2 linked regions of the Homo sapiens genome follow. The protein of the gene in region 2 interacts with the protein of the main gene of each other region in a pairwise test. Each region holds a gene or a part of one and is shown on either strand. Other genes may lie near its edges.

Region 1 (16,433 bases), on a different chromosome or scaffold from region 2:
CAGTGGCCGCCAGGGTGAGGACAGTGAACTGGACACCCACCCAGAGGCCTTCATGGAGCCGGAGGGGATGCTCCCAGGGAATCCATCTTCAAAGTCCCATCCTCCCCACAAGAAAGACCACGGGAGAGGGGCAGGCTCAGCACCTGGGAGACAGGCCGAGGGGTGGCAGGGGCTGCTGAGGGGTGGCGGCCTTGGGCAGGTCTGGGAAGGGCATAGAGACCCGGGACCCGCCCACACCCCACCACACCCTGCCTCCTCCTCCCCGACCCCTCCAGGCTGCCGTGAGTGGCAGGAGGGAGTCCTGAAGCAAAGAAGGGGTGCCGGGCTGGAAAGGATTCCCTGAGTACTTGCTGACACCTGAAAGGTGACCACAGGATCTGCAGAAAATTTAATGCAAATGGCAGGGAAGAGCAGCCACACCGAGTGGACTGAGGGTCAGAGGCCACAGCGCCTCAGGCTCCCTCCGTGTGGTTCCATACCTTGGCAGCAGGCAGTGGTGTTTTCAGCAGCACCCACCTCATTCTCAGCCGCGCCTCCGGGTCCACACCCAGCCAGCTCTAGCCTCCTCACCCCTGCTCCCAGAGAGCACCTCCCTGGCTGGCTGAGAATCCCAGAACCGGCATCGCCAGAGCTGGGAGGAACTCAGAGGTGGACCAGCAAGCCCCAGCCCTCGGTGCCAGGAGAGGCACCTGGGGCCCCGGGCAGAGGCAAACCTGCCGCTCTTGCCCTCCCTCCCTTGTTCTGAGATGGGGCTCAACGGCCACCTTGGGAGCAGCCCTCCTGGCCTCCTAATCCAATACGAGGCTTATGTCTCACTCTCCCTAAGGAAGGCAAGGAACATGGACTGAGACAGACGGCGCAGCGGAGGGAGAGAGAGGGAGCACCATGAGCCCAAGAGCCTGTGAGGCAGGTAAAAGGCATGACACAGGCGCCCGGAGCTCCAGACGATACGGACTCTTGCTTATGGCAACATCATGGCAATAAACTGGCCCTCTGGGCCACCCAGCGGAGGAGGCACTATCGCTCTAGCCCCTCCAGGGAAGATAAGGAGCCAGGCCAAGGGCGGGCAGGAGGGATGCTTGGGGTCACTAGCCAGGAGGAGCAAGGAGGAGCACCCAGCTTGGAGGGTCATGCCCAGCAGCTCAGTGACCTCAGGTACATTCCTCTCCCCCTGGGCCTGGCCCACCAGTGTCTCACCTCACAGAGAAGCGGCCCAGGGTCCACTGTCTTCAAAGTTCTCTCCTTCCCCAAAATAACTTCCTGAGGAAGGGAAGGCTTGGGAGCCTAAGGCACCGCTAAGGGACAGCACATGTAGCCACAGCATTCCCCTCTCTTTTGAAAAACTGGAAGGCCCAGGAACCCTGGGCTCTCCGAGTCCCCACTCAGAGCCACCAAACTTGCCACCTGGGGCTAGACTGAGCCCCCGGCTCCACCAGCCTCCGCACAGCAGGGTCCGCCTTCCTCCTGCAGACTCTGTGCTGCTCTACCGCTCTCCAAGCCCCTGTTATTCTACTTGTTTGGGGATGCGTGAGTGTATGCTCAATCTTACATTTGCATGCTTCTCAAAATGTCATGCATGAATTTGACAGGTATTTTATGTGCCAGGCTCTGTGCAAGGCACTCAGGACAGGGCAGGGACAAGATTGGGGGATGAGCCCCTGGTCCCTGGAGATGCTGTGGCAGCCCAGCCCTGCCGGCGGCTGCAGGTGACCTCTCAGCATGGGGGCAGCATCTTCTGGCAGCATAGGCAGCTTGTGGCACCAGGTCCTGGGATGTACATGTCACATGTCTACACCAGCTCATCTTTGTTTTAGGGACATCATTTTATCTCTCTTTGGAAATCACTTGACTTCTTTAGCCTACTCTCCTCCGCGTCCCCACAGCACTTGCTCAGCACTCCAAGCTGCTGATGCTCACTCCTTTCAGGGTCTGAAGCTCCTGATATCAACCCTTCCCAGCAAATGCCAGGTCCCCCCATGCAGGGCACCACCCCTGTGCCTGCTTCGTAGCCCCGTGGCCGAGACTTGGTCTTGGTCCTGCTCAGCCCCGGGTGCAGGCAGAGGAGGGAGAGCCTGGAGTGGAACTGGCTGGCTGTGGATCACCCACCTCCCGGTTCCCCACAGGCCTGGGCCCACAAGTACCGACTCAGGGAGTCCCCTACATCCCTGCCAAGGCCTCCAGGTTGCTTAGGTTTCATAGGTTTTGGGAGGTGGCTGTCATTAACTGAGCACTTTCTGTATAGAGGTCTTAATACACACCTGCCCATTTTTGTTAATCCTCATCACAGACACCACTTCTGCCTTTGATGGAAGAGGAGAGGGTTTCCAGTGAGGGAAGGAGACGGGGAGGGCCTGGGCGGTCGAGTCAGTGTGCACAGGAGGAGGACTGGCCTGAGAGCCACCCCACTCTCTCCCAGCCCAGGCTTGTCCTGAGTCTGTGTACCCCATGGAGAAGCCAGCGGCTCCCCATCTGCTCTCCCTCCCTGGGCCCATGAGTGGGGGATCCCAGGCTTGGCATTCACTGTCCCCAGGTCACAGTGGGGAGGGGTGGGCTGCAAAGACTGCAGTCCTTCCTGGTCCTGCTCCCAGGGCCACTGCCCACCCCTGCCCCCTGTCACCCCTACCCCAGATAAGGCAGGCCCAATCCTTGACCCGGCCCAAAGCTGTCCCTTCTGTAGCCCCATCCCAGCCCCACCAAAGCAACCCTCACCTCCAGCCAGGTTCCCAGAGATGAAGCGGAAGAAGACGCTGATGATGCCTCCCAGGTGCTTCCCACAGCCATGCTGGCACTCCTGCAGCCTCGGGCCAGGGCCGCACCCTGCCATCCTTGGGCCTGGCTTAATCCGCCCGACTCCTGCCCTCAGCTCTGCCCTGCCTGCCACTGTGCAGGCGGTACCCCCACAAGCCTGCTCCCTGACCTCCTCTGCCAGCCTCTCCTCAGCCTGACACTCAACACCTTTCTTTTTCTAGGACTCCCCACTCCTGGTCTGTCTGTCTGTCTCTGTCTCTCAAAAGCAGCGTCTCTCCTCTTGGTCTCAGCTTGTCCCCAGTGTCTTGGGCGCTCTGGGCCTGTCCTTCTCTCCTCTGCTTTCTGTCCCTGCTTCTGGCTCTCCCAGCCTTTCCGGGGACTGCCTGCCCCTCAGCCCAGAGCCCCGGGGCAGCCAGAGTGCACTCAGTCCTCCTGCCTTGGGTTTGCCTTCTCAGGTAGCCCCTGCCCCTGCCACAGGGCTGGCCCCTTCACCTGGTGCCTGGCCTCAGCCTCCAGGCCCCCGGAGCTCACTGTTCCTGGAGGCAGAAGGGCCCCTGCGGCTTCCTGGGCTGGGAGGCGTGGGGATGGGGTGGGCGTCACTCCTGAGCTCCCAGCACCAACAGAGGAGGTGACACTGGTGTGATTATCAGCTGAGGGTGTGATCTCACTGCAGAGGGGCCTCACCCGGGCCCCAGGGCTTCTCTGCAGCCAGACAGGGAACAGCCTGCTCTCACACAGTCCCCTGCCTAGGAGGCTCAGGGCCAGGGGCCCTGAGTAGGACGGGGGCATAGGTAGGGCCCTAGCCTTAGGCTGTCTCTTGACCTCTGACCTCTATCCACTGGCCTCATCCCTCAGCCCTGCTGTGCCTCTCTAAAATGCAGAAGGGGAAGTGGGAAGCGGTTCCTCTGCTGAGGAGCAGAAGGGAGAGCCAAATTCATGACTGGAGCTGACCAACCCCCTGCCCTCCACATTTTTGAGCACTTAGCAATAAATAAAGGCGATAACAGCCAGGCAGCTTGCTAAGGTCTTTCTGGGTGCCAGTGAGTGCCTTCAGTCATCAAAACAACCCTGCAAGCCACATGTGGCTGAGAATGCCAGTTCTGTATTCATTCTTCCTGAGTTTCACCAGCAGGGTTCAGATGCTGTTGGAGATGGAAATGCGCCCAGCTGAAAACTCCACCATTCCCCTGCCTTCCTCGCAGTGAGGGCAGCTTATCTCTGGCCAGTGGAATGGAAGCATCTGTCTTCCAGAGACTTCTGTGAGTGCTGCCTTCCTGACATGGGGACCACCACTCTCCGCTTCCACCTGGGTTCTCCTTCCTGTTGCCTGAAATGAGGCTGTGTGGGCTGCAAAGCAACCACATTGCCACAGTGAGGGGAACGGTAGAAGAACCCAAGACATTGACACTGACGTCCCCCAGCTGCCAAACTAGTGCCAGCCACCGCCTCACCCCATGTTTCCCATATAGGAGCCGATGCACCTGTCTTGATCAAGCCACTGTTATTTGGGGTTTCTGTTATATGCAAGTTCAGGCAAGCCAAGGGATCCCTTGCAGAGGGAAAGACGAGCTGCTGCGCCTCGCACCCCTGCCAGTAAAGGAAGGTGCGGTGCCCGGCGGGCCTCCTGTGCACCACAGTTAAATGTGCGGCTCAGAGGCTGTTCCGCAGGTGCAGGCCAAGTACAAGCAGTGCTGCCCCTTGGGCCTAATGACCCAGAACATTCAATGACACACGATGAGTCTAAGGCAAGTTGGAATGCTCTACGGGGCCATGGCAGGCCCCCAGAGGGGAAATCTGTGGTCTCTTGGGTTTTGAGCAATGCCAAAAATCTCTCCTGTTGGCATTCAGCTAACTTCCCACTGCTGGGCTGCTGTGGGGGTGGAGCGCCTGATGGTGAGAGAGACAGAGACAGAGAGACAGAGTAGGTGGCCATGAGCCCCGAAACACCCAACAGCAATCGAGTATCAACCTCTCGCCCAGCCCCACTGGTATCTGCATGTGCACACAGTGCTCTGTCGTCATGCCCAGGTGCTGTGGATGGGGCCCGAGGCAGGGCAGGTCTGGAGGGCGCAGGGAGGCTGTACCTGCGGGGGCTGCGACTCCCACAGTACCTGCTGCATTGCCGCTTTCCCCACAGCCCACCCGCCCCCTACGGTCTCGAAGCCGTCTGAGGAGGAAAAACTTTCGGAGGTGACTTATAGACAGAGCTGCAAGAAATGTTGGCCCCAACTCTAGGTGACACTGAGGCCCACCTAGGGGAAGGACGTGGAGAAGGGACATCTTCCTGGTACATGTGTTGCCCACATTGTCTGAAGAAGAGAGGGCCGAAGGCACAGGTTTACACTGATTCATGGATGGCTGTTAACCATTAGTTCAGGGGTCAGGGAGGTGGAGGGGCAGGATCGGGGGAGTAAGGGCTGGGAGGCCTGGGGAGGAACCACCCGGAGTGTGGGACAGCAAGTGCTTCACAAGTGCCCTCCAAGGGGCGCTGGGGCCGAGGAGGCACTGGACGATCAGGTGGGCCAGTGGTCCCCTCTGTGCACCTCACAGCCTCTGTTCCTGGCTCCTCTGGCATTTGCTTGAGAACGAAACACCGTAGATTCAATAAAAGAACTTCTCCCTGGGCCGATCAGGCTGCAGCTGCAGTTCAGTGCCCAGCCAGCCACCAGGTGGCAGGTCAGCCACTCTGCATCCCTGCCATCACTCTGGGGCTCCCATTATCCTCATGGGAGTGATGGTCACTCTGGGTGTGACCTTCCCTCTGGCCTGCCCTGGTGCTGCCAGCACCTCCCCCATCACGGTGCCTCCACGCCATAGATCCCAAGCAACAGACTCATTTCACCACGGAATAGAGCGGTGTGACCAAAGACCAGGGCTCACAGGCTCCCGTCCCCGTCCTGTGCCCACCCCCAGAGGCAGCTGGCCTCACAGAACAGTGATGAGACCCGCTGAAGACTGGTTCTGGCAGCCGTTGCGGGTTCCAGGGCTGCCCTGTCGGGTGCCAGTGACACTGCTGGATGTGCTGCCTCTCCCCCAGCCAGAAGAACAAGCCCGGAGCCCGGGAAAACACGCAAAGGCCCCTCCCTCATCCAGTGCCTGCTCACCGCACCTCTGCTGCTCCTCACCAATACTCCAGGCTCTGGATTAGAGGCTTTAAATTCCCATGGGAGAATGGGTCCCCAGCAGGAGGCAGCAGGGGTTCTGCTAAACTGGAAGCTGGGACGGCCGCCTGGCCATGCTGGGCCCCTCACACCACTCAGACCAACTGGCATCAAGGGCCATCGGCCAGTGAATGACCCTATTATCGAGGGGAGCAGGGAGGACTCTGCTTCAAATCCAGTGAATTCTCCAGGGAGCCTAGCAACACTGCCAGTTACAGTGATGAAAGTCAGTGGGGGCTTCTAGCAACCCCAATGAGGCAGGACCACCCAGGACTCAGATCCCTCAGGAATGGGGGTTTGGATCACTCCACCAAGGACTCAGCCACATCTTTGTGGCTTTAATCCATCTTTAATCCATCTTTGTGGTGGATTAAAGATGGCCACAGATGTCATACTACAACCCCATGGAAAGGGGTTAATTCTCAGAAATCCTTGAAAATTTGCACTGATCTGACATCTCACTTTGATATCATGTATCTTGATGCTTCATGATGTCAATTGTATCCTGTATCTTCAAATACGCGAAAATTCTGTTTATAGATCTTTACGTATTAGAGACGAGTTAACTCACCTTTTGTTCCGATGCCTTTCTGCTACCCCTCTTTCCCAGGAGCACTGGTGGTGGTGTCTTTATGATTTTACGTGGGGTTGCCATGGCACCCCGGGGAGAATGAGCATCTCCCTGGGATGCATCGGCGACTGAGGAGGATGTGGGTCTTCTCTCTGGGGGAGGGGCATGTGCATGCGTGTGTGTAAGTATGCGTGTGTGTGTGCTCATGTGTGTGTGTATGTGTGTGTGCTTGTGTGTGTATGTGTGTGTGTGTGTATGTGTGTGTGTGTGTGTGAGGAATGGCTGCACCGTGTCACACAGAAGCGTGCAGCAGCTGCTAGAGCGTTCCTGCCAGAGTGGTCCAGGATGCCAGGCATCTCCCAAGGCGCTAGGTGGGGCCCTGGCTTCGTCCCATTCAGACCTCGTTCTCTGGTCCTCCGGAGTTTCTGTGAACTTCCTGAGGCCTGGAGCCCACCCTGTTTCGGTTGTCTGCAGCTGGGACCCCAGGTTATTTGTGGGTGACATTATTATTCCAGTTGAAGAAACCCAAGTCCCACAGCCCTTGTGGGCATCAAACTTGAGAAACAGGTCTGTCCAGTTGTGGCACTGGCCATGCCTCTGGAGAGGCATCCTGCAGGGAGAGGCTTTAGATGCAGGGGAGGCATGCAGGGCAGGCCAGAGTCCCAGCTTCCGGGTCATGGAAGAGGGTCCAAGGAGCTTCTAGGCTGAGGATGGGGCGCCTCTCCTGGGTAGGGTGGGGCCAGGCTGCCTGTGCTCTGAGTCTCCTGGGCTCCCCTCTTAGAGGCCCCACTGCTGGCCACCTCCTGACTCCATCCTGGGGTCTTCACACCCAGAATTGGCCACCCAGGGCCCAGCCACAGATGCTCTAGCCCTTGCCCACTGTCTCCAGGACCCTGGGTCCTGTCCACTCCTTGCCGACGTTCTACCTCACCCAAGCCTCCAGGACTCCCAGGCTGGGCCTTGGCTTTCACTCCCAGCTGTTCCCGACATGTGTCTCTGGCCCCACTTCTGCTGAATGGAAAAACCCCAGTACAAGGGCACAGTGTCTGGGCCGCCCCCCTCCCACAGGACCCCAAGGCTCAGGACACCGTGCTGGGCCTCGCAGAGCACACAGTGGGGCTGCACTGAATGGGCCCCATTGTTCTTTGCACCCAGAGCCTGTGCCAGCTCCCAAAGAGGGGGGATGCCTCATCTGCACACCGCGCAGCACTTCACACGTGCACAAAGCCCTCAGTGTGACCACACCAGCCCGGCCTCCTTGCGGGACACACACGGGACGTGTTTGGACTGAAGAGAGGAGACCCGGGAGCTATGGCCAAGGGAGACAAAGGGCACATTGGAGTCCCGGCTCCTCTGTCCGTGAGGTCCCTGGGCTCCCTCGTCCCTCAGCTCCCACCAAAGACGCTCGTCAGGGTGGGCACCGTGGAGCTCTGGGCCCGAGCCTCCCCCACCCCAACCCCCGCTTCTTGTGCCATCTGCTGAGTCACGTGACCTCTCTGAGCTGCCATGGACGCTCTGGTAAATCAGGGTGATGAGCTCCACACTGCCTTCCTTGCACAATCAAATAGGCTCTTGGATGTGTCGTTCACATCTGCTCCCAGTGCCGGCACAAGGTCCGGTAAACACATCCATGCAGGGGAACAAACCCATCGCTGGTGCCCTGGCCCAGCCCTGGCCCTGTCTCCTGTGCGCCTTTGACAAGTTGTTCAGCAAACGTGTCCTGACAGCTGGGTGTGGAAAGGCCCTGCCCTCTAGGAAGCTTCCGTGAGGTGGGATGGGGCATGCAGGGGTGGGCCGTGCAGGGGTGGTCCCCCCCGCCCTGACTTGAACACGCCATGCCGGCCCCTCTGTCACCTTTCTCCCCGTCCACCCCACTCAGCATAGCTGCTGCTGTCACGGGTGTGCAGAAAGCTTCGGCAAAGGATGCACACCAGCCCCACCCGTCCTGAGCCACCTCTGCCTGCCAGAGAGAGACGGGAGGATGAGGCTGAGCATCTGCAGGACCTGAGGGATGGAGGGAGGGTACCACTGCAGCACCCCTTAAATACTTGTTGCCACCAAGAAAACCCTGGAAGACTGAAGTGGAGGAAATCTGAGTCTCGAGCGACCTGAAGCTGTGCCCGTCAGAGTGGACCTGAGCCGCCAGCACATGCGATGGCCACCGTGCTCTCGCCCCCACCCTAAGGGAGAGCAGGCGCATTTTCATTCTGATGCAGAATGAACAGTGCCCTGAAGGCGGTCCTTCCCGGTCGAGCTATGTGCATGTGCTTTTAGTGACCTCATCATGTTTCTGCTACCTGCAAAACCTGCCACCCCCATCCCCGAGAAGTTGGGGGTGCATGTGGAACTCACTCATGCATTCACAGGTGCTAGCGCTTCCATGGGAAGGGGTTGGGGACAAGTCTCAGCCAAGGTGACAGCATCACAGATGGGTAGGGGCTCTGTGGGGAAGCAGAGGTGGTGGTGGCAAAAGGGAGGGGGCTGGAATCGTGCTGGGAGCACCCTGGAGTGGCATTTGTGGGTAAAGGACGGGGATCTGGTGCGTAGCAGCCAGTCCCTTTGTGCACAGGCATGGACCTCTGGCTGTGGCTGTCAGCCACTGTGCCTGCTGTTTGCCCAGACCCCTCAGTTGATCCCCTCCACTCATGACCCCCATCAAGCCTAGGAGGCTGGGACCCCGATCATGCCCATTCTCCTGGCCAGGGGACAAACGCTCCCTGGAAATCACACAGCTAGAGAGGGTCCAAGAGAGCAAACAAGATGCAGCTGTCAAGGGCAAGTCTGCACCTTTTCCTTAAAGTCAGAGGCAGACTCTTATACGCACCATACTCACATGTGTGATCCCATGAGTGTGCATGGTGTGTGGGTGCCTGCATGTGGTGTGTGTATGTGAGTATGCAAGTGTGTATGGTATGCCTACCTATGTGTGCATGATGAGTGTGCAAGCTTGTGTGTGGTAGAGGCACCGGTGTGTGTGCATAGGTGTGAGTGTGAGGTGTCTGAATGTGTGTGTGAGATCGTGGGGGCCGCATGAGGCTGCCATTGTCTGTTCAGCCCTGTTATACTCGGCAAACACCAAATATCACCCATGGCAAGCCCAGGGCAGTGATTTCTGCCCGTTCTCTCGTTAACACACCACCAGAATGCAGCCCAAGGCAAAGAGCCAGCACCAATCCTTGGGGTGCACTGAACAGGACCAAGGAGGGGCTGAGGGTGGGGCCTCCTGATCACCAGGCACTGCACACATTATTTCCCATCTTCAAATGTGCCCTGTGGACAGGTTCCAGCCTGGCTTCTCACGGAAGGCTTAGAAAGGATCAATGAGGTGCCCCGGCTTACTCAGGGCGTGAGCAGTGGGCAGGGTGGAGCCTGGTTTGTTGGACTCTGCAGCCTGGCTCTGTCTTCCTAGCCAACTGGAAAACCGCAGTGTGGTCCCAGCTCTCTGTACCCATGCTCTGTGGGTCCCACTGGGAGCTCAGTGGCCTGTGTGAAGCAGGCACTCAATGAATGGGGAAGGGTGTGAATGAATGAAAACACACCTCCAATAGAGACAGGGGCGATGTAGCCCAGGCTGGGGTCCCAGGCTGGCCTTTGAGCCCTCAGAAAGGACAGTGCTCAGAACAGATCTCCCCACCCCCACCCTTGACCACAGCCCACCCTGGCCCCTACCTGAGCCCTGTGGGGCTGTGCTGGACAGGATCCACTTGACCAGGCAGCATCTCATCAAAGCCTGGCGGCTGAGCCTCGGCCTCTGCCACTTGATACCCTCCTTCTTGCTAAGTGGTGTGTGCCCGAGGTCCCCCAGGAGGCTGCCGTCCGACGCCTTTGTCACTTCCTGCAGTAGGAACAGGCAGAGCAGCCCTGAGCCCCTGCTCAGAGGGGGGACCCCTGGATGGTCCCGAGCTGCCCTGATATCCTAGATGAGGCCAGCCTGAACACAACAGAGGGCTCACCTTCCGGGGCTGCATGCCTAGTGCCCCTTGTCCTGGCCATTCCTGCCAGACCTGGGGAGGTTCCTTTCACTCTACACCCTGGCTATGGTGTAAGATGGGACCCCTGGAAGAGGGGCAGACAGGGGTGCAGAGAGGGGATGTCAGCAGTGATCCCAGACTTACTCATTGGATTCTCCACCTTGGCACAGGCCAGGTTGTCGGAGCTGGACAGCCCCTTAGAAATCACGATCCCAATCCCTCATCTGCCTGAAAACCAGAGAGGCAAGTGGATCTGTACAGGGTCACACAGCCACGTCTGGCTCCCTCACTCCCCCAGCAGGGCCCCTGCTCTGCCTGAGTTTTCATGCTGAGGCAAGCTGAGAATGAATGAAAGGCTGGGTGGTGACCCCAGGAGGGCTGCACTGGTGGAACCGACCACTGAGGCTGGCAGGGATCTGAAGAAACAGCTCCAGCTATGGGCAGGAGAGTCTTGGGAGGAGTGAGTCATGGGTGGTCATTAAGAGGCAGTGGATCAGCCGGGCGTGGTGGTTCACGCCTGTAATCCTAGCACTTTAGGAGGCCGAGGCAGGCGGATCACCTGAGGTCAGGAGTTCGAGACCAGCCTGACCAACATGATGAAACCCTGTCTCTACTAAAAATACAAAAATTAGCCAGACGTGGTGGCATGTGCCTGTAATCCCAGCTACTCAGGAGGTTGAAGCAGGAGAATTGCTTGAGCCCGGGAGACGGAGGTTACAGTGAGCTGAGATCATGCCACTGCACTCCAGCAAGGCCAACAGAGCCAGACTGTCTCAAAAAAAAAAAAAAAGCAGTGGGCCATGTGCCTGAGTCGGTGTGGATCAGAAAACAACCTCCTGGGGTCATGGTGGAGGCCCCAGGGCAGCAGGATTTGCTCTCCTACAACGTATTTCAGGCCCCCCAATCCTGACATCCAAACTGCCCACCATGCTCAGTTCCCATGCTGGCAGCTGGCCCATGAGGCACAGAGGAGGGAGGTGCACCGCAGGCTGCCGCTGGCCACACCTCTGTGCACCTGCTGGGTCTAGTTTGCTGCCTTTGTGCTGTCCTCTCCTGCTCGGGGTGGCAGGGGGACAGGTGTGGTCTGGCCCATTGGACCACAGCCCACCAATGGCCCTCATTTTGTCTGTGACGCACTGCCTGACCTCTAGCTGTGGCAGTGGCACCACCCCCACATGCATATGTGTTCTGAGCAGTTGGGTTCCTTGGCCAGTAAAGAGGGCCACTCAGGGGGTGGGTTGTCCATACCCTTCCCAGGTCACAGGGTCTCGTGTGTGCTACCTTTGCACGGTCCTGAAAAGTATTTGGTTGTTCAAAGTAAATAACAGATGGACGGGGCCGTCAAGCAGCTTCTACAGAGGCAGCCCTGGAAGACAGCCCCTGTGCTAGTTGGACTGTCAGGTGCAAGAGCCAGAGACTGACCCAGGTTGATTTGAACTGGAAGAATTGGCAGCAGGGAGCCCGGGCCAGTCACAGCCTGCAGGGAAGCACAGAGAGCCAGTCCTGGAAAGCAGACGAGATCAGAGAGCAGCGCCGGACACCAGCCCTGGCCATGCCCGTCCACACAGAGCCCAGCGACAGGGCTCTGCTGCTGCTGCAAAGGCTGGCCCCTCTCCCGAGGCATGGGCCTGGCACCCCCACTGGTCTCTGCACACTGCAGGCTCCAGCTGGGGGAGGATTCTCTGGGTGCTTCACTGGCTCATGGTCCCCTGAGGCCTATCCACATTCGGGATGGGCAGCTGGCCCACTAGTCAGTGTTTGATGAAGTGGTCCCCTAGGCAGGGAGATGTCCAGTTCCCTTATCCTGGCTTTTGGGCCTTCCCCAGCTAGGTCCCAACTACCAGTCCTCCAGCTCACAGTCATCATCCACCCTTCCTCCGACACACCCTTGGCAACAACCCCTGCACGTCCCTCCCCTTCTCCAAGGCTCACCAAGCAATGAGGGGGCTCAGTGGTGCCCAGAGCTGCAGCAAGAAGAGGCACTGACCATGCTGATGGAGCAGAAACAGGGGGAGAGCTGGGGGTGGACGGGTGCCTGGGGTGCTGAGGGAAGCTCCCTATGTGCACACGCTATGCACACACACGTGTACAATGCTCACATGCACACACACGCACACACATGCACACAAGTACACATGTTCATATGCACACACAAGCACACATGCATAGGCACACACACGTACACATGCTCATATGCACATGTGCTCACACATACATATGCACACACACGTCCTGTCAGGCTGGGTCAGAAACGCACTTTCTCCATTATTCATGATCTTATTCAGGAGTCTTTATTTTGGTTAAGGAGGGTCGTAGGGGAGAGAGGGGCAGCAGGTGCTTCATTACATCACAAATTCTTTGCTGCAGGCTCTGCGTGGGGGGTGAGCAGAGGACATCAGAAGAAACTGAGGCGGCCTCGGAGCCCCTGGCAGGAGCTCTTCACTGGGACCCCCAGCCCCGTCTGCAGCCCATCTCAGAACAGCACTGGCTTGGCTGGCAAGGCTGCTTCTCGGGGCCCAGGGTTAGTCACAGGGATTCTGTCTTGAAGCCCCAGGCCCAGGTCGTGCGGGAGATCCCATGGGTGTCCTGGGTTCTAGCTCACAGGGCTCAGTCCTCCCGGGAAGGCTGGGTGAGCCCAAAGGGCAGGCTGAGCACCTCCCAAGTGGATGTCTATGTTGAGCTGAAAGTAATCTCGTCACGACAACCCCCTGCAATCGGTAAGACGATCCCCATTTCACAGATGAGGAAACTAATTCCCTGAGAAGTTTTGGGACATGCCAGGGCCACACTACACATATAGTCTTCTGATTCCAAAGTTCACATGGGCTTGACCACAGGCTTTGCTGCTGAGGCTGTTTCTCGGCCTGGGTCCCTGGGGCGGTCTCTGGAGCTGGGTGTGTTCCGAAGCCCCTCAGGCACATCAGCAGCCTTCCAAAAATATCCGTTGAGGAGTGCTGTGATGCCCTCCTGGGCTAGGGGGCCCCAGTGTGTCTTTTCTCCCTGTGGAGAGAGTCTGGGTGGAGTGGTGGTGGGGGTTCCGGGCCAGGCTCCTCCATCTGGCTGAGGGGCCAGAATCCCACCTGTGAGCCCCACAAGGCAGGCCCATGATGGGCACCCCTCTTTGTGAGGCAGGGGGTGGGTTCTGAGAAGAGAAGGGAGGGGAGGGCCAGGGACAGGAGGGCAGGGAGACCCCAGCAGCCGAGCCTGGGAAGCTGGGACTCATCAGGCTGCGGCCTGGGCCCTCAGGCTGCTGGGGAGGCGGGAGGAGGTCATCCTCATGAATATCTGACACTTGTCTGTCTGGAAGAGGGTCTGACTGAGCTGTCAGGGAATGTTAAATAGCAGCCCAGGCACCCTCCTGCTGGCTTGGGAGGCTCACAGCATGGAAGGGAGGGCGTCCTAAGAGGCGGCCCCCTGGCCCCTCACCCCACAGTGCCTTGGTGCTGGGAGAGAAGCTGGGGCAGTGATGAGATGGAACATGAATTAGATGCCCCAACCCTGCCGGGAGCCCCAGTGCCTCCTTGCCAGGCCCTGACAGCCCCACCGTGCCCCTCCAAGTCTGCTCCCACACCACCGCCTTGGCACCTGCTGCTCCTGGCACTGGACACTTCTGCCCCAGGCGTTTAAGGCCTCACTCACGGCTCAGGTCCTAGAAGAGCCCTGCCTGACTACCTAGGCCACCCTCCCCCATGCACCTCCATCTCAGCACTTCTTCACCCAGCCCTTGTGAACTGATCCTATTATTGTGTTTTCTGTCTCTCCCCTTTAGCGCATCAGCTCTGCGAGAGTGGAACCTGATCCTCATGTGACCTGCTTTTCCTCGTGACACAGCCTGGCACCCAAGAGATCCTCACTCCCAAAACTCAACAGTAAAAGAGCAAACCATCAGGTTAGAAAATGTGAAAGACATGCACAGACATTTCACCAGAGAGGACACGTGGATGGCAAAGGCGGCGGGAAGAGATGTTCGCCGTCATTAGCCATTCTGGCAACGCAGAGGAGGACCGCTGTGAGACACCACCATGTGCCTGTCCGAACAGCTAGAACCAAAGATAATGACAACTGAAAGCTGGTGAGGATGTGGAGAAACGGAATCACCCCTCCATTGTCGGTGGAAAGGGAAAACGCCTTAGCCACTCTGGAGAACAGTCTGGCAGCTTCCTATAAAAACTAGGCATGCGCTACCACAGAGCCCGACCACGGTATTTTTGGCCGTTTATCCTGAAGAAACGAAAAGTTATGTTCAAGTGAAAACATGTACACAAATGTTCATGGCAGCTTTACTTGGAACGGCCCCATACTGGAAGCAACCCAATGCCCTTCAATGGGTGAATGATTAAACAAACTCCAGTGCATCCATACCACGGAATTCTGGACAAGTAAAACAAACAAACTGTTGGCGCACACCACACCTGCGTGAACCTCCAGAGAATTACGCTGAATGAAAAAGCCAACCCAAAAGGTCACATTCTGTGTGATTCTATTTATATAACATTGTAAAATGACAAAGTTTTAGAAATGGAGAACAGATTAGAGGGCCAGGGGTTAAGGATGGGGGGAGGCAGGCAGGAGGGAGAGGGGTGTGGCTCTCACAGGGCGGCAGGAGGGGCCTTGAGGGGACAGAGCTGTTTTGCATCTTGATGGTGCTGTTGAGTGCCTGAACCTACACGTGATAAAAATTGTAGCAAAAAATGCACACGGAAATGAGTGCGTGTGAACTGGGAAATCGGACTAGGACTGGTGGGTTGCATCATTGCAGACACTCCAGTTGTGCTATTGTGTTGTAGTTTTGAAATATGCTGTCATTGGGGAAACCAGGTTAAGTGTACATGGGCCCTCTTTGTGAGCTCCTGCAACTGCATGTGAATCTACAACGAGCTCAATAAAGATTTCCATCAAAAAATACTCTCATGCACCCAAAAAGAAGGTGTTAAAAACGCAAGCATGCACAAGGCTCTGAATAAATATTCACGAATGATCAAAAGTCCCCTGTGCTCTTCACAATTCACCTGGGGCTCTCTCCTCCCACTCCTGCTCGATGCCGGCCTCATTTTAATGGGTGACAGAACTGTCATTGTCTACCAGCTTTAGAGGATGGCCAGGGTTGAGTGGCAGAGACGAGTGAAGCCAGAAGATCTGGGCCCTGGGTTCAGGCAGAGTCCCTGGTGGCATACTTGGCAGTGTGGGCATTTAGGGCTGTGTCCCAGAAACGGCCCTAGGCTGGCCCTGGGGACCTGCAGCCTTCTCAAAGGTCACAAGTTTCCCTGAAGGATAGAGGCTGCTGGTGAGCCAGGCAGGCCATTCTCTGCCAGTCACCTGGTGGCCGAGATCTGTAGCTCCTGCCCAGCCAGGCAGGCCAGGACCAGGCCTCAACTTCCTTCTAAGTCCTCCTGGCCTGTGGGGAGCCAGGGAGGGATGGAAAAAGATGGCGTGGGTGATGCCCCTGCTGTGTGCTGGTGCTGAGTTAGTTGTTTGGAGGGGTTATCATATTTAATGGTCACACCAACTTTTTGAGGTTCCTTAGAACCTCAAAATTACCCAAAGCACCCAACTGAGCCCCAAATCCGGTAATGGATTCTAGCTCACCCGTTCTCATGCAGCTTGCCAGGGTCCCTGGGGTATGCGTTCTCCTGTTATTCAACAGGGGTAAACCCAGCCTGTTCTGAGTCAGCTGCGTCCTGGGGGCTTTGGCCTGAGGTCTCTGGCAGTGGGGAGCTGCACCTACGAGGTGCAGGAGATGACTTAGACTCGGGGCCAGCACACTCTCCAGCTCCCCACTGCCATTCTCTTTACAAAGGGAGGGCACGGCCTCAGCTCAGAGCCTCAACAGGCCACAGACCATGGGTGGGAGTTTATCGCTGCTGCCTTATTTCATGGCAATGTGGTGGTTACCTTCCACTTCTGCTCCCGGCTTCCCACTTACAGTACTGATTTAAAGATTCCCTTTTAAATGAATTCACTAAAATTCAATGCATGAGTTAA
Region 2 (16,433 bases):
TTTGTAAAATGCAGAGCATGGCTCCCTATCTGCTTCTCAAGGATTTAGGTCTATCAAGTGAGATTAAAACACACACACACACACACACACACACACACACACACACTCCTTTTGCCCTCATTTATATCCATATGCACATAAAATCTGGATGTATATTCTGTACACACAACACTAAATGTGTTGGTTCCAACTTCCGGAGCAAAAATGTCTGGCGTTTGCCTCTTTGCTAACATACACTAGCCTTAGAGGTCTATCCCCCACCCTTAAATAAAACTCTGACTAGATTCAGTTTCAAAGTTAACAGCTGCCTACATCCTGTATGAGGTCTCATATAAGGCCTTGTCACTTCACAACTGTACCACTGCAACAACAGCTTCTGAGCGAGGCCAGCATCTCCCCACTTCATGTCATCCTGCACGCTTTACGACCACTAATTGCAGCACAGCAGAATAAATTAAGATGATGGGCTCTGGAGTTCCTTTTCGTTCAAATTCTAAGTCTACCATTTAGCTCACATAGCTTTCAATGACTTTGTCTAATGCCCACAGCAACGACTACTGAATCCTTTTAGAAATGAATTACACATTAATGTGCTACATCTTTTTATCATTAAGACATTATTTAAATCACTATTGTTCTTTAATTTTTTGTTTTATCTAAGTTTAAGGAAATGCAAGACTTGTAATCCTAAGAGAAACATAGTCTAGTATAAAACGCTGGCACTGACTGGGCGTGGTGGCTCATGCCTGTAATTCCAGCACTTTGGGAGGCCGAGGCGGGTGGATCACTGAGGATAGGAGATTGAGACCAGCCTTGCCGACGTGGTGAAACCCCGTTTCTACTAAACATACAACAAATTAGCCAGGTGTGGTGGCGCACACCTGCAATCCCAGCTATTCGGGAGGCTGAGGCAGTATAATCGCTTGAACCCAGCAGGCGGAGGTTGCAGTGAGCCCAAATAGCACCACTGCACTCAGCTTGGGCAACAAAAGCGAAACTCTGGTCTCAAAAAAAAAAAAAAAAAAAAACACACTGGCACTAACAGAACCTGATTTGCTTTTACTAAAAAATAATTACAAGGGTATGTTTATTTGCCCAGAAATGTACCTCAAAGTAATCCAAATGTTGATGAAGGGATGTTCTCATTACAGAAGTATTTAAGTTAATAAACAAAGAAGGAATGATAGGATTAGAATACCTATTTTTGAAATTCCTAACTAAATAATGCATCCCTGGACATTAAAAAAAAAGTCCGTGCAAAATTCAAATATCACAAAGAATAGAATCAAACTCACTATTTCACATGTCTACAAGCACTTTGTTTCCAATTTGGTAGCTTCTGATAATAGCTTTTAAATGATGATGCTTTTAGTGATAGTCACAGGATATAAAACAAGAAGATAAAGGACATGCAAAGAAAACGTCTGGAACCACACACCCGAAACTGTTAACAGGAGCTTCTTGGGAGTGGCGGTGGGTGGGACAGCTTTCTACACATCTGTGTTCTATTTTTAAAGTTTATTATTTATATGTATTTTTATTTTGAGATGGAGTCCCACTCTGTCACCCAGGCTGGAGTGCAGTGGAACGATCTCGGCTCACTGCAACCTCTGCCTCCTGGGTTCAAGGGATTCTTCTGCCTCAGCCTCCAGAGTAGCTGGGATTACAGGCATGCACCACCACTCCTGGCTTAGTTTTATACTTTTAGTAGAGACGGGGTTTCACCATGTTGGCTAGGCTGGTCTCGAACTCCTGACCTCAAGTGATCTGCCTGCCTCAGCCTCCCAAAGTGCTGGGATTACAGGTGTAAGCCACTACACCCGGCCAAGTTTATTATTTCCATAATCAAAACTTTTAACAAAGACAAGATAGGGAAGCCAAGCTAGGAAGGAACTAAATTTAGAAACAGAATCAAACACATGAACAGAAATGAGGCTTCTGTTTATGTATTTGCAAAAAATTTCTATACTTTGCACCCATATCTCTGACTACAGGGACCACTTTTGTCATTGGTACTAATTTGTTTACAGGTTCTGATCTACAATCATAAAAGAGTGACTGTACAGTCTTCAAAGTGCCTTCCACATAACTGAGAAGTAACTTAAGCCCTGGAAGAATTAGGGTCCCTAAACTTGGCAGTCTTTGGTACCCATGGGCGGCTCAGTGCACTGGGGTTATTACCATTCTGAAAGAATGCTAAGTAAACCACAAATGCTTAGAAAATCTATCATACAGTACTGACGGCAATCTGAAGCAGAACCAGTAGGTGGCGCACTAAAACAGGCATTAGAGACCAGGACACCGGCAGTAAATCAATCCAGTTGGCCAACCTCGGGGTCTTTAAACCTAGTGGGTTTTAACCAGGCTCAGGAATTCTATTAATCATTTTATGTGGGTATCACAGAGAAGAGGAGGCTCTAAATGTGGTTCTATTTTTTTCTGACGACTATTTTCCAATCATAAACACATTTACATCTTCATTATATTTAACTAGCTTAGCTAGCTTTAGAAATACATTAGCTAGTCTTAGAAATACATTCTAATGCTAAACTAAGCAATACCAGGATAACAAAACTGCATCCAAAAGGGGGGGGAAGGGCAAAATTGTTTTTATGAAAAATTCTAAGTTATTGAGGTGCTTAAAAGCAAAAATATACAGGAACATCACCACCGCCAAAATAATTTTCCATAACTGGAGCAAATGCCATCTTCCCCAGCTGTGTTATTTTGCAGAGAAAGGCCAATAAAAATGAATGGTCCTCAAAAAGGAGAAACAGATTTCCCTTCATGCTCTTTCCACCTGCACTTCTGACTTTTCAGATGTTAAAATAAGGGTCAAATTTCTGTCAAAATGCAAGACTGCGTGATTATAGATTAAAAGGGTTGGTGAATCATTGACATGAAGTTTCAGAAGTAATGCAGTCCTGCTTTGGAGCCCTATCCAGTGGTGTCTGAGACCTATGCACAATGGCTTTATGGAGTGGGGAGCGGGGCTGCAGGTGAGCTGCAGGGCTTAGAAACACACACACAGTCCTTCATGGAAGACGAGGTTAGGGGGTTACTAAACCTCCTCTGAAAGCAGCTTGCCTGGAGGCTAGAGCATGATTTATTACAGAAACGACCTTACAGACAACTGCCTGCCCCTTCCTGAGGGAGGAGGAAGGTGGAGAGAGAATGTGTACGTATCAGGAGCAGTTTCCTGTTTCTTGGGGTTAGAGCAAGACCTGCCTCTGACGTTCTCCCTTCTCATCTCCCTATTTCTTCCTTTCTCCATGCCCTCATTTCTTCCCACAGATCCTCAAAGGGTGCCTGCATTATCTTCCCCAACCCAGGACTGACCCCGAGGCTCCAAATCACCTGCCTTCCTCCAAGCAAACTTCCGTCTCCCAGCTGACCTCGGCTAGGCATACGGAGCAATACACTAACACACCATCGCTAAGCCTCCCTTTCAACTCTTCTAAGTTTTTGGATTTTTCAAAGAGAAAACATGTTATCTTCCCCTACCCTTACTCCCCAAAGGAACTTAAGGCAAAAAAAGAAAAAAAAAAAAGGCGGTGTGTGCATGTGTGTGTGTAATTCTTGGCTAGGAAAACTGGGCAGGCAAGCAACATCCCTGTAGCTAAACTTCCTTTCCAGAGAAACTTTTCTCTCTTCGTTTCTTTACCCAAATTCTTCAAAATCCCCCAATGGCTCAAGTATTATTTAAGGACAGTTGCCCTAGCCAGAAATACAGGGGACAGGCAACAGATGTCAGCAGGCATTTTTAAGCTGGAGGCTCCCTGAAACAAAGCTAAGCACTGGCACCTACCTGGAATTTCCTACCTAGACATTCTTGGAAATTTTCATGCCACTCTGTGATTTTCACCTGTCCTACTCTTCTATGACTGGTTTGAAAAGGAGAAAAATTCCATGGGGTGTTTCTAAATCTTCGCCCCTCATGAATTAGTTATTTTGCATTAATGTGTATTATAAATGGGAAAGAAGTTAATTATTTCATTTCAGATGAAATATAATGATCCAGTGAGCAAACAACCCACCCTCTCTCCTCTCTCTGCTAACAAGCCACCCAATTTTACTTTCCTGCCTCCACCCATCTGCTCCACCCTATGGAGAGTTGCCAAGGCAAGTCCAACTTGTCCAAACAGGACATGGCTTCAGATAAGATTCTGCCCACACCCTGTACTTCGGAAAGACCAAGTGAAGCAATTGATTTTGCATGTCAATAAGGACAGGTGCAAAGGTAACAACCAAGCAGAAGCCTGACAAGTTTCCAAACTGAGGCCTAGCAAAGCAGGGCTGGGGGCGGGGACACCCACACCTATGCTACCCTCTAAGTTCAAGGCCATCTGGCTAGTGGCATTCCACACCCTTCTTAGAGAAACTGCAGCAAACTCGAATCATTTTCCCTACTAGGGTTACACACTTGTTTATGCTCTCTGACAATTTTGTGTTTTAGTTTTAAGGGCAGGCAACCCAAGATAAATTGAAAAATACCCATAATGTCTAATCCTGCTGTGTACATATCTCACAAGGCCTCGCCTAAGCCCTCACAATTCTCCTCTATGAAGTGTTATATAATCAAATCCAGAAGGGCTGCGTGAGGCCACACTGCCTCTCATCTGCCTCTGCTCAGTGCCCTCCCTATCACTGGAGACCCACCCAACTCCACCCTAAGGAGCCTCCACCCATGGGGCCCCACCCTGCAGGGAGTGGGAGGTTGGGAGGGACCAGTTGGCGCTGGGCAGCAGCCAGTTCCTGGAAATTCCGGCCTGAACAGGGATGGTTAGAATCTTAAAAATAACCAGAAGGAACCATGGGGCTGTGATCATTCCTCTGCTCCTGAGGATTCTCCACTGAAGTTCCTCCCAGAGAGCCACTGAAACTTTGGATACAAAACCATGAGCGAAGCCTACCCTCTCCCTTTAAAAATAAGCAGAAAAGAAAGAGAAAAGCATTTTGAACCACTGCTATCAACGTGGCCCAAACCAACCCTACCCCTCCTTGTTCCTGCCTCTAAGGCTGCCCCCTCCCCGCCTCCCATTGGCCTTATTTTCTGGTCCTTCACCATGGAAACCTAGAGGCCATCTCTGAAGCCTTCCTCACCTCCTTTGCTCTCCCCTCCTGCCTTGGGGGCCAGGCCCTCAGCGCCTCCCACCTGCATTGCTGCAGCTTTTCCACCACTGGTCTCCCTCAGCCTCTCCAGTCCAGCCCTCACCCCTTGCCACCCACGTTTTTCACAGATCTCTTCTCATCCCATCCTTCTCCAGCTCACAACCTTCCCTCCCGTGCACTCCCCGGGTCTGACAGTGGGCTCAGGCACCCATGCTTGGCACCCCGTTACCCACGAGCTGCCCCCTGCTCCAACAAGTGCCCTTCATGCCGGCTGCCCTGCCCACCCCCAGGCCTTTGTTCATTTTTGGCCCTGATGCTGGGCAACCGGCAATGGAATGCCCCCTCCCCTTCCGGCTTATCTAAATCCCCCTAATTCTTCAAAGACCAGCTCAAGGCCCTCCCCACTCTGTGCAGCCAGCTGATTGCTCCCTGGGGGATCCAAGGCCGCCTCTTCTTACCTAGATAGTCTAGGCCTCTTAGCTTTCCCAGTGGTGCGTCCCACACCGCCACCAGTACTGGGAAGGACAGACAGGCAGGCCTCAGCCTTCCTGAGAGGGCTCCCTCCCCACTCCCCACAGGAGATCGGGCTTGTTCCCTGAATGAAGTTTTTATGTCAAGCCTAAGGAGCTAACATAAGAGCACTTAGCTTATAGTAGGAGTTCCACAATCATCTCCCTTTCCCTCTGAATGCACTTGAAATCTCCCTTAAACAAGTAATAGGGATGAAGGGCCTAACTCTAAGGGAGACCTAGTAAACCAAACTTCCTAAGGAAAAGTTATTGCCCCTAACCTTAGCCTGGCCCATCATGTGTACTCCAGAGACCTTATTAGTACCATCTTCAAATAATTTATTATTATCCACTCAGTGAGGTCTTCTAAACAAGTCTAGTGTCGAGGTCTCTACTGTACTTTAAAATCTAAAATAGAAAAAAGAAAGCGAGAAAGGGAGGAGAGGAGGCAGGTGGGGGGGAACTGCAAGGGGAAGGGGTGTGTGCACAAACACAGGTTTTTGAAAAGGGATCAAGGAAGGCAAGGGGCTAAGTGATGTCACAGGTTTCCTGCCAATCACCACCACCTTCGTGATTGGCAATCCCCAGGCGCTGTTTAATGTCAATGAGGTGGTTACTACCTTCCCGTTTTACTGAAAAGAACACTGAAACAGAGAGGTCAAGTAACCTGCCTAACATCACACAGCTGCTAACTCGTAGAGCCAGGACTTGAACCCAAGGTAGTCTGACTTAAGACTGGTGGCCTTGGCACACCACTCTTCCACCTCCCCAGGCAGAGGACAACATTACACCACCAACAGTAAGTACATGATAGTGATTTCTGTGAACAGGTTGGTCCCCGGAGAAGACAGAACGTGGGGACAGTCTGTTTACATTAGTGACAGTTTCCACTCCTTCCAACTGGCCCCTGCTGCCCACCCTGTCTCAGTACGCACACTTGGATGCAAGATCAAAAGACACATTCTGAAGGCCCCAAATTAGGCAATTATTCTTCCTAGCCAGTGCACCTGCATTGTCGATATAACTGCTGAGAAAAATTGGCAGCTTGACCCAAGTAAATACGGAAATCCTCATAATAACTGCACAAAGGTGGAAGGGTCAGGTCCTCATCCCCATTTTAGAAATGAGGAAATGGAGGAACAGAGGTGAAATGACTCGCCCAATTTCACAGAGCTGGTTGGAGCTGCAGCCAGGAACAGAAGCGTGTCTGCCTGCAGACCCGGGCACTTTCTGTTCTGCTTCAGAGCCTGTGCTGTGGGACCGACTTTTAGGTAAAATCGCCTAATGCTGGGGTCTTTCCCCAGTAGGGAGGGTGTGGGTGTGCACAGCCACACTGGCCCATGGGAAGCAGTGCCAGGGGGAGGTTCCAGCAGGCAATTAAGATTTCAAAATGCCTTTTCAGGTTAGATCACTGTAGATCTACTCCATCCTATGGCATAACTCAGAGTAATGATTGCACATAATTTGAGATTAGCTCTAATAAGTAGGTACTCAATAAATACTTGTGAGATGAATAAATGAATGGATGTCAAACTACACTTCTCACATGCTAGGATAAATTAAGGGCAAGGGCCCTGGAATGATGGTACACCAGGTGTCCTACATGGAAACTCTGTCCAGCGGCTGGTGAAGCCAGCCTGAAACCTCATCTTCTAAAATGCAAAGTAAATGTGAAAACTTTGGGAGCCTGGGAGAGAAAAACTCCCTGGTTTGGAAACTCAGCGGAACAGGAACTCGATCTTACAAATGAAAGAGGCTTTGGAGTGTGAAGCTTTGGAAGGTACCAGGGATGCAAAGTACAGGAACAGATAAAGGAGTGGATTTCAGTGATTACACTTAAACAACAGTGGTAGTAGAAAGAACAGCATATAGGCCAGAGAAAAAACCCCACACTTGATTTGCAGGTCGCTCTCCAGGGCAGAATCCGCTGACCTCAATACTCATTTGATCTCTTATGTCCAGATTTGGCCAAACTCCACTGATTTGGGTTGAGACTAGCTCTGGGCCATCCCTGGCAGGATCCACAAGCCTTCCAGAGACTGGCAACCATCCTGAGGATGTCCCAGACTAAGCAGGGCAATTCTGGGTCCTCCTGCAAAGGGTCTGCCTCAGGGAGCGCCCCCTTACAGGAAACAGGGTAAGAGCCAGACCCAGGGGTTACATGAAATGCATGGGCTAGAGGGCCACTTAACTTGCTCTCTTCTGTCTCCAGCCCTTCTAAATAATTAGATGGAGAAATGATAATGAATTCAGCCTGCCGACACAATGGAGTGAGTTTCAAAAACCTCCAGGAGCCTGTTTTGCTAAAGAAACAATTTTACTACAAACTCTCTGGCCAACGGATACAAAATGCACAGATCATTTTTTTATTTTCTTACTGTTCCAGAGAATATGGTCACATTCATTACAGAATAAGGACAAGGCCAGTTAAGAGGACATCTTTTTTTTTTTTTTTTTTTTTTTTTTTTTTGAGACAGAGTCTCACTCTTGTTGCCCAGGCTGCAGTGCAGTGGCACAATCTCGGCTCACTGCAACCTCCACCTCCCAGGTTCAGGCAATTCTCCTGCCTCAGCCTCCTGAGTAGCTGGGATTACAGGCGCCCACCACCACGCCCGGATAATTTTTGTACTTTTAGTAAAGATGGGGTTTTGCCATGTTGGCTAGGCTGGTCTCGAACTCCTGACCTCAGGTGATCCACCCACTTCGGCCTCCCAAAGTGCTGAAATTACAGGTGTGAGCCACCGCGCCCGGCCGAGGACACTATTTTTTTGCTTTGGAAGAAATGAATCCTAGTTTTGGTTCAGAAACTGTCAACAGCATTGTGCCTCTTCTATGACTACTAAATTTCAAGCAAAGAGAGCTGAGTTGGGGGTAAAAGCAGGGCTATTCCCCGCCTTCAGACAATGCTGTCCCTTATCAGGGCAGACTGCTGTCTGGTTTCCTGTCTCCAGCTCGGGCATGACTGCTTAAGATGAGAAACATGGTCTAAGAAAGGAACAGAGTGGTCTTGAAAATGAGAATGCTAGCGACCACCATAACCCTCTTCCAACTCACTCCCAAGAGGAATTCTGACTAGAATATCACATACTAGCAAACTAGATATCAATTGTTTTAAGATTCTAGGGATTTGCTTTTTTAAAAAGCTAGAACCAATGATAAATGATGCACTTCAGAAAGAATCCAAGTTCCAGAATAATGTAATTGTAATTCCTAGTACCTTAAAGAATGAGGTTGTGTGTATTTTATTTTTCTTAAACTCAACTGGGTGTGAAAACAGAGAACAAGAAATGCTGCCTAAGAAATCTGTCGTTTTATAGCAAAAATGTTGATTTGAAAATATTAAGAAGGCAAGTATCTCAAGGGGCGATGGAGACACAATGAAATTAAATTAGGAATCATGATTTATATGGTTAAGAAATTAAAACTCTTGTTCCCATCTTTCTGGTAATCATAGCAACTATAAGATAGGATAATTTTCCCCAACTATTCAGCTTAGCATTTAGAAGCTTGCAGAATTTTTTTCTGATAGAATATATTAGACCCTAATTATCTCTATTAACCACTTCATCTCCCTGCAAAAGAGAGAAGAAAGAATTTGGGGAAAGCCAAATAAAGACTCTGTTTACCAAACCTAGTTAGATTGTTAACAACTTTGGAACCAAAACAAACAAAAAAACCTGCTTCGATTGGAGTTACTTATGAATTTTAAGCTTAAAAGTCTCTTGTCCTACAGGTCAGCTAAGTATTTCCAGCTGCTTTTCCCAAAGGAGAAAGAAGTTATTGGGACTTCTAAAACTCCCAGCTTTTTTCATAGAAGGTTATCAGTAGCCAACTATTTGATACTAATAACTCTCTTAATATCATATTTTATATTTTCCATTTATACATAAAGAATGTGGTGGAATGTGACATTTAAAACGCACCATTATCATCAATTTTGGGGAGAAGAGAGCCTGATTTGCTGCTTCAGCAACTCTTTAAATTAATTCCACAGAGATGCTGTAGATGATTCCTTTTGATTAAAAAAAAAAAATCCCCAAGTAAGTTTACAAAAGCACTTTCCAAAACTTTTCTTTTTCAAGCAAATATTTCCTTAAATCTTAGTTTCTCAAGAACCAACAGAAAACTAATATTAAGGCAGGTCTTAAATAGTTATCCTAGAAATTCATTAACCCACAACTGATAGAATATTTTTAAAAAATGAAAAATATTATTGTAAAACAAAAATGAGAAGAGCATTCTTCTTGTTTTCAAAATAGAAGATTAAAATTTTCCAAACAATCTAGCATTAAATGAATTTGTTAATGCCAGTTCTCCTTTGAGCTTTTTAATTCTTAAAAACGGGTTGGAAATGAGGTGTAGAATATTGCACAGTGAAATCTTTGTCCTTAAAACATTATCCTGATATTTAAATCTTTGTCCTTAAAAAGAAATAATCCCGGGATTTTCTCAATGTCTTAGGCTTTGCTTCAATGATTTTTCTAAAGATTTCTCCTTCCAAACATAAGCAAGACTTAAACTAAAGCCAGGCTGCCAACATTGCTTAAATTCTCCATCCACGGAAGCCACCTGGAGCAGCCTGGGTTAAACGTGAACGAGGGTGGGCCACATCTTTCAGATAATGCTAGGTCTTCTAAACTGTAAGGTGTTAATCCTGATCCAAAATTGACAGCTTCAGGGCAAAATGCCTATCTTAAAACAAACGCCCTAACCACTTCAACACAAGAATTACAAACAAATACAAACAAAACTCCTTTAGGTTTCTTTGCCAGGATGGACCCACGTTTCCCCAAATCACAATCTAGCAATAAAAAATTTAAAAAGGTAAAAGCATTTATTCACCCAGACAAATGCAGTGGAGCAAAGGGTGTACGTAAAAAGGTTAACTGACTTCTCATTATGACATAACACAGGCGTCTTAAGCAATATCAAGTGTGTAGAGACATGATAACTCCATGGGTGGGGATACGGAGTTTAGGGGCAGGGACCTCAGCCTGGTCTGGGCTACTGATCTACCAGAAAACAGCCTGAAACAGGAAAGAGCACACATATGCCACTTGGAATGTATGACGCAAACCCCAGCCTTGAAACAAAGAACAGGAAACAGCTCTGCTGGCTGTGCTGGAGAGAAAGCACAGAGAAACATTTAGCCGGCCCTCCCTGACCCTATATTCATGAGCAGCTGGAGTTTTTTAAGACAACAACAGGGGGGTGGAGGTGTTTGTTCTACGGGTGTGAATAATAACACCAGCTTTATACAGGGGACCTGCCCTATTTACAAATAAGAGCTGCCACATACAGTAAACATCATAAGTGAAATGTGATTTTATCATATTCAAGCAGCAGAGACCTTCCTAATGAACACTAGCCTCCCTCCTGATTTCTTTTGTCCCTTTCTGCCCCATTCCAATGGCTAGTCCCTAGCTCAGATCAAATTCCGAGTTAGGGTAATGATTATGGTTCAGCCTCAGTGCATCAAGAGGAAAAAAGATAGAGCACTGCTGTTAGGAATTCAGATTACAATTGGGGTACCCCACAGAACCAAAATTGGAGCAACTGTAAGCCTCCTTTAGTCACAGAACTAAATTCCAAGACAGACTGTGGGACATCTACAGTAACCCAAAATTTTCACTGTCTTTTTCAAATGCAGTTATACACATCTTTGCAGAGCTGCTCATCTGTTCAACATATACACACGTTTATAGAAATTCGCCTTTTAAGAATGTGATTCTGTTCCTGACATTTATCTAAAAATTATTATGCAATCTGTACACCAGAGTACTAATTTCTAGAAGTCATTCTAAAATGTCTATTTTCCCTTTGGGTTATTTTTAAGATAGTAAAATCCATTCACAGTTCCTTTCCCATTATTTCTCTTTACTTTGTTAGCCAGGACTGTTTAACTCAAGCTTACGTTATCAGAGATTTAAGAATGTGGTGTGTGCAGACTAAGTACAGGTAAGGAAAAAAAAAAAGAAAAAAAAAGGAAAAAAAGAGCATCACTGTGCCCATAGCAACAAGAAGATTGGGTTTTAATTTAGAAACTTTGCAGTGAATAAAACAATAGCTTTCTGCAAAACTCTGTTGTCGTTTTGTACCTGACAAGGTTTTGTGGTCTAAGCAGTTACTTTTCTTTGTTATTCCCATGTTGAGATTTTTGTACTTGCATTCCCTTTCATGCAAGCTAAATGTTCTTTACAATGTATCATCATTGAACTTACCGATAGTACATTAGGTTTTTTTCTTCTAATAAATAGTTCTGCAGCAAAGCCCACTGACTGCAGAAATGAAGATACCAGTTTCTCTAGGGAGTTTAATTTAATCGAACATCTAATTTCAGGTTTCTATTAACAGCCTAAGGTCAACTAACATACCTCTTTTCAAACCAGAAGAAATCACTCGTGGACACTTTCCTTAAACACTATTACTAACTCCAAAAAATTTGTAGATATTAATGCTAGCAGATTGTTTTTTCCCCTAAAAGCAAGTCTTCTTCCCTAGGGTGAGGCAGATCATCCAGATGAATTTCTCTTATAAAAATGCTCCTCAAATTCGTACAGAAAAGGATAGCACAAAACTGCTGTGTGGAAAAACCTATAATGAACAACTGGCCTATTCCCCACTTGATTTTGCTGGCACATTTCAGGTACTTGTCAGAATACCACTTCATACTTTTTCCCATATACCAGACTCTTGTGAGAATATAATCAATATATTTAAAATGTCTTGGGTGATATTAATGGAAACATAAATTCTGAGTAAGAAATTCAGTGGTTAAGTGTAAAATGTTTATTTTAGTGAAATACAAGAAGGTGAGCAATTTCCAATTTCCGTTTAACTTGACTTATTAAAAATAAGTCTCATTCACATTCTTCTAGTATTATTGTATACTGCTATAAAATTTAAACCAGAAAAGTGCTTCTCCTTGTCAGTAGCTATCTGCCCAAAAAAATGAATATGACAATTCCAGATCTCATCTGCCATCTCTAAGAAAGCCACTTGGAAATGTTAGGTAGGTCCCATGGGTCCTGATCCAGGGATCTGTCCCTGGGTCCCCATCAGGCTCGGCTGCAGGCAGTTGCCTAAGGCGTCTTCCGCCTTCAGCCACGCTGCAATCCTTGCTCCAGGCACTGCGGCAGGTTCTCTCCATGCCCCCAGGAAGACTCTCCAAACCCGACCAGCTCATTTCTCCTGCCCCGGAGGATCCAGACGCCCTGGCAGCTCCTGGGCTCCAGAACCGAGAATGGGATGCTGCCTCCAATCCCAATTGCCCTAAGTTTCTTTCCAGAGGGCCGGGAGACTGCTCCAAGTTTGCTGTGGCGGGCGAGCGGCCGCGCGCCGTGTCCTGGGAGGGGGGCGGCGGGGGGCGCGGGCGGAGGGAGGGGAGGGGAAGGACGCGGGAGCCTGGGTTGTGGTGGTGGTGGGGGGGCACCGGGAGGGGGAGGAGCAGGAGCGCGCGGCCGCGGCGCTACCTTTCTCCAAACAACGTTGCCACACGCGGAGAGCACGGAGATTTCTGGGGCTTTGGAGGGAATCGTGAGCGGGCGGGAGGAGGCCGGGGACCACACAGGTGAGCCCCCGCCCGCGCCCTGCCCGGGACGGCGGCGGGCGCTGCCAGCCCCGCTCCCCCGCACCCGGGGTCCGCACGGTGCCTCGCCTCAACCCCTCACTTTTCACCGCGAACCCGTGACCCCCTCCTCCTTGCTTGCTCTCCGCCCCCACCCCGGCTAAGTGTAGCCGCCACACTTTCCCAAGCCCGCAGGCGCCCCCCCCAACACCAGCGCTGCACCCCCGACCCATTCCCCGCGGCCCCCTCCAGGAGAAAAAATGAAACCAGACTGGCCGAGGAGGGGGGCGGCAGGGACCAGGGTGCGGAGCAGAGGTGAGGGAGACGGGACTTACTTTGCGAGGCGCGGTGCAGGGCGCCGCCGACGAGAAATAAAGGCCCCGATACGGGCTGCCTGGAGCCCCCCGAGCGCAGCAATGTCAGGGCTCCAGTCCGGGCGGCGTTGGCGGCCGCAGGGGACGGGGACGGGCGCGCGTGCGGCGGGCGCTCTCGCTGCGCTCCGGCTCGGGCCCCGGCTCCGCGCGGCTCCGCTCCTGGCTCCCCTCTGGCTCCTGGCACCAACTCCGGGCAGTCACATGACGCCGGCGCCGCTCGCTCTGCGAGCCTCCCGGGGCTGGCGGGGTAAGTAGAGGCTGGGACCCGGGGTGGGAGGGTCAGGGAGGGGAGAGGGAGCCGCCGCGGCCGCCCGGGCTGGGCGGGTCCCCACCCACTTGGGTGGAGGCAGCCGCCGGAGGGGTCGGCCGAGTCACTCGCGCAAACACGCACCCCGCCCTGCGCCCTTCCCCCGCCACCCCCGCCTCCCGCGCCGCCTCCGCCCCGCCCCGCCCAGTCACCCGGGGACGGCCTGACAGACACTCATTATTCCCCGGAGCCGGGCGCCGCCCCGCCGGCCCAACCTGTCCCACGAGGCGCGGCGCGGCCGTGGGGCTGGGCGTGCGCGGCGCGGCCTCCGCCCCCCGCCCGCGTCCCCGCCCGCGTCCCCTCCCCGCGCCCTCCTCCCCGGAGTCCGCGCCCCGCCAGCCCTCCCGCCCGGCCCAGCCGCCGCGCCGCCGCCCGAGCCCGGGGGGAAGGAAGGGCGGCGCTGCCCGCTCCGGGCGTCACACGGCTGCGGCCCGCTGCGCTGCTTCCAAAACACACAGCCGGGCTCGCGGGCGAGCCGAGGCGGGGGGCGCGGGCTGCCAGGGCCATCGATCAGCCGGCTCCAGCGGGAAGGGCGGCCCCGGGCGCGGCGGGAAGGGCTGGGCCCCGCGGCCGGCGCGGCGCGGCGCGGCCCCTCCTCGGCTGAGCGCACTCAGCTCACTGCAAGAGAAAAGCCGAGCCGAGGCGGCCGCGGTGCAGGAGCGAGTGGGCCGGGCGGGTTCGGGAGGGGAAGAGCGGCCGCTGGGGCGCGCCGAGCCTCCCTGGCCCCGAGTCGCCGGGGTCAGGGGACACCCTGTAGGCGCGCTCTTTCTTTGTGCCCTGGGGCGACGGGTCCCCCTGGCCGGCGGCCCAGGCGGCGCCCCCCACCTCGTGGGACTTTTCTTTGAAGGCCCGGAGACCCCTGGGGCAAAACTCCCACGGGCCAGGCCTGCCGCTGGAGCTAAAAAGCGGCATTTGCGCAGTTGGGCTTGCCTGGAAACTTGGCAAACTTTGGTCGGATCCTCCCCTGCAGAGCGAGGGCCTGGCCTGGCGACCCCCTCATTTCAAGTCGCTTCTAGGGACCTAGCGCCCTAAGCTCAGTGGCCTTCAGGGTGCTGCGAGCGAGCGGGGCGGCACAAAAGCGCGTTCGGTCCAAGCCAGGCCCCTTCGAGGACTTTGTGTAGATTGGTACCTAAGTTTAATGCCTTTTGAGTTTCTTTTTAAACAGTATTAATGTAATAATTAATGTAATAAAAAGAACAAAGGACGAATTCGTTCGATTGTTTTAAGTTCTGTGTAATGTTTAAAACCGCCCCTGCTTCAGTGTATGGCTTATTATTGCTTCAAGATGTTTTAAAGGCCCTTTAAGTTGACCCATCTCGCTTTGATGCTTCATCCAGACATCGTGCTGCTTAAAACGGAGTGATAATAGTATATTTCGAGCCGCTTCATGTAGCTACACAGTATTGTAAAATTAGTACTCGGTAACCTCAAGTAGTGAAATCGCATATTTTAAATAACGCAAGTCCAGGAAAGGCCACGTGGAGGATACCCAGAACCGACGCCGGCTCATGGGACGTCGTGCTGTCCCATAAGCTTCATCTTTAAAATGTAAAGGGTGTGAGTTTTTTTTTTCTTCATAATGAATAAAAGACATTCCAGAAAAAAAAAGAGTTGGATTCGTGTCAATTACTAATTGCCATTTATTGATCACTGACATCATTAAATGGCTGATTGGCTGCCTTAAGGTTTGCATTAGCGGAACACCGTGCTAGGAATGGCTGGTGAAACTGGCTCATAGTAGGTGCTCAAAAAAGTACGTTTTTTTCTCCAGGGACACAGTGACGAGAACTTGAAGCACATAAACCATGTTTTTTACCTTGTTCATGTGGGTGTGGACGCAAAGGGGAAGAGCGAAATAGGCCTGTCGGAGAAAAGTGTGACCCAAGATAAGAAGGGAGTGGTTTTGATATGGAAGGGGCAGGCGGCAAAGGAGAAGAAAAGCCATTTTAAACAGTTAATTAGTGAACACTGTGTTCGGTGCCCTGTGGGAAGCTGCTCAAATGCAACTTGTCGGAAATGAATCTATCTAGTGCTGGGTAGCTCAGTGAAGGACACCATCATTCTTCAAAGTGCCCAACAGGGTGGGGCGCGGTCGCTCACGCCTGTAATCCCAGCACTTTGGGAGGCCGAGTTGGGTGGATCACTTGAGGCCAGGAGTTCGAGACCAGTCTGGCCAAGTTGGCGAAACATCGTCTCTACGGAAATTACAAAAATTAGGCATGGCGGCGCACGCCTGTAATCCTAGCTATGTAGGGAGGCTGAGACAGGGTGATTGCTTGAATTCAAGAGGTGGAGGTTGTAGTGAGCTGAGATCATGTCACCACTGAACAGAGTGAGACTCTGTCAAAAAAAAAAAAAAAACCAAAACAAAACAAAAAAAAAACAAAACCCCAACAGAAGCACCTAAGCCTTTCTTCTCGCTAGCAGGGCATAGCCCATGTTTCACTGAGTCCTGGACCTCCTTGGTCACTACCCACTCTCTGGCCACTATGCTGGCCCAGCCTGTTGCCACCATGTCTTGTTGGTCATCCTGTCATCCTGTTTGTAGTATGGGCTGAAGCATG

What was found.
Region 1: the proteins of KLF3 (region 2) and KCNIP3 interact in binary tests that used the Homo sapiens proteins (3 or more experiments, as listed by UniProt).

The regions. Positions count from the first base shown.
Region 1 is NC_000002.12:95,304,237-95,320,669, reverse strand, and holds part of KCNIP3 (calsenilin), read right to left. Parts: intron 10,316-16,433; coding exon 10,150-10,315; intron 1-10,149. UniProt on the Homo sapiens protein: Calcium-dependent transcriptional repressor that binds to the DRE element of genes including PDYN and FOS. Affinity for DNA is reduced upon binding to calcium and enhanced by binding to magnesium. Seems to be involved in nociception.
Region 2 is NC_000004.12:38,661,552-38,677,984, reverse strand, and holds the start of KLF3 (Krueppel-like factor 3), read right to left. Parts: upstream 13,787-16,433; 5' UTR 13,524-13,786; exon of another isoform or gene 13,357-13,523; intron 13,192-13,356; exon of another isoform or gene 13,092-13,191; intron 1-13,091. UniProt on the Homo sapiens protein: Binds to the CACCC box of erythroid cell-expressed genes. May play a role in hematopoiesis.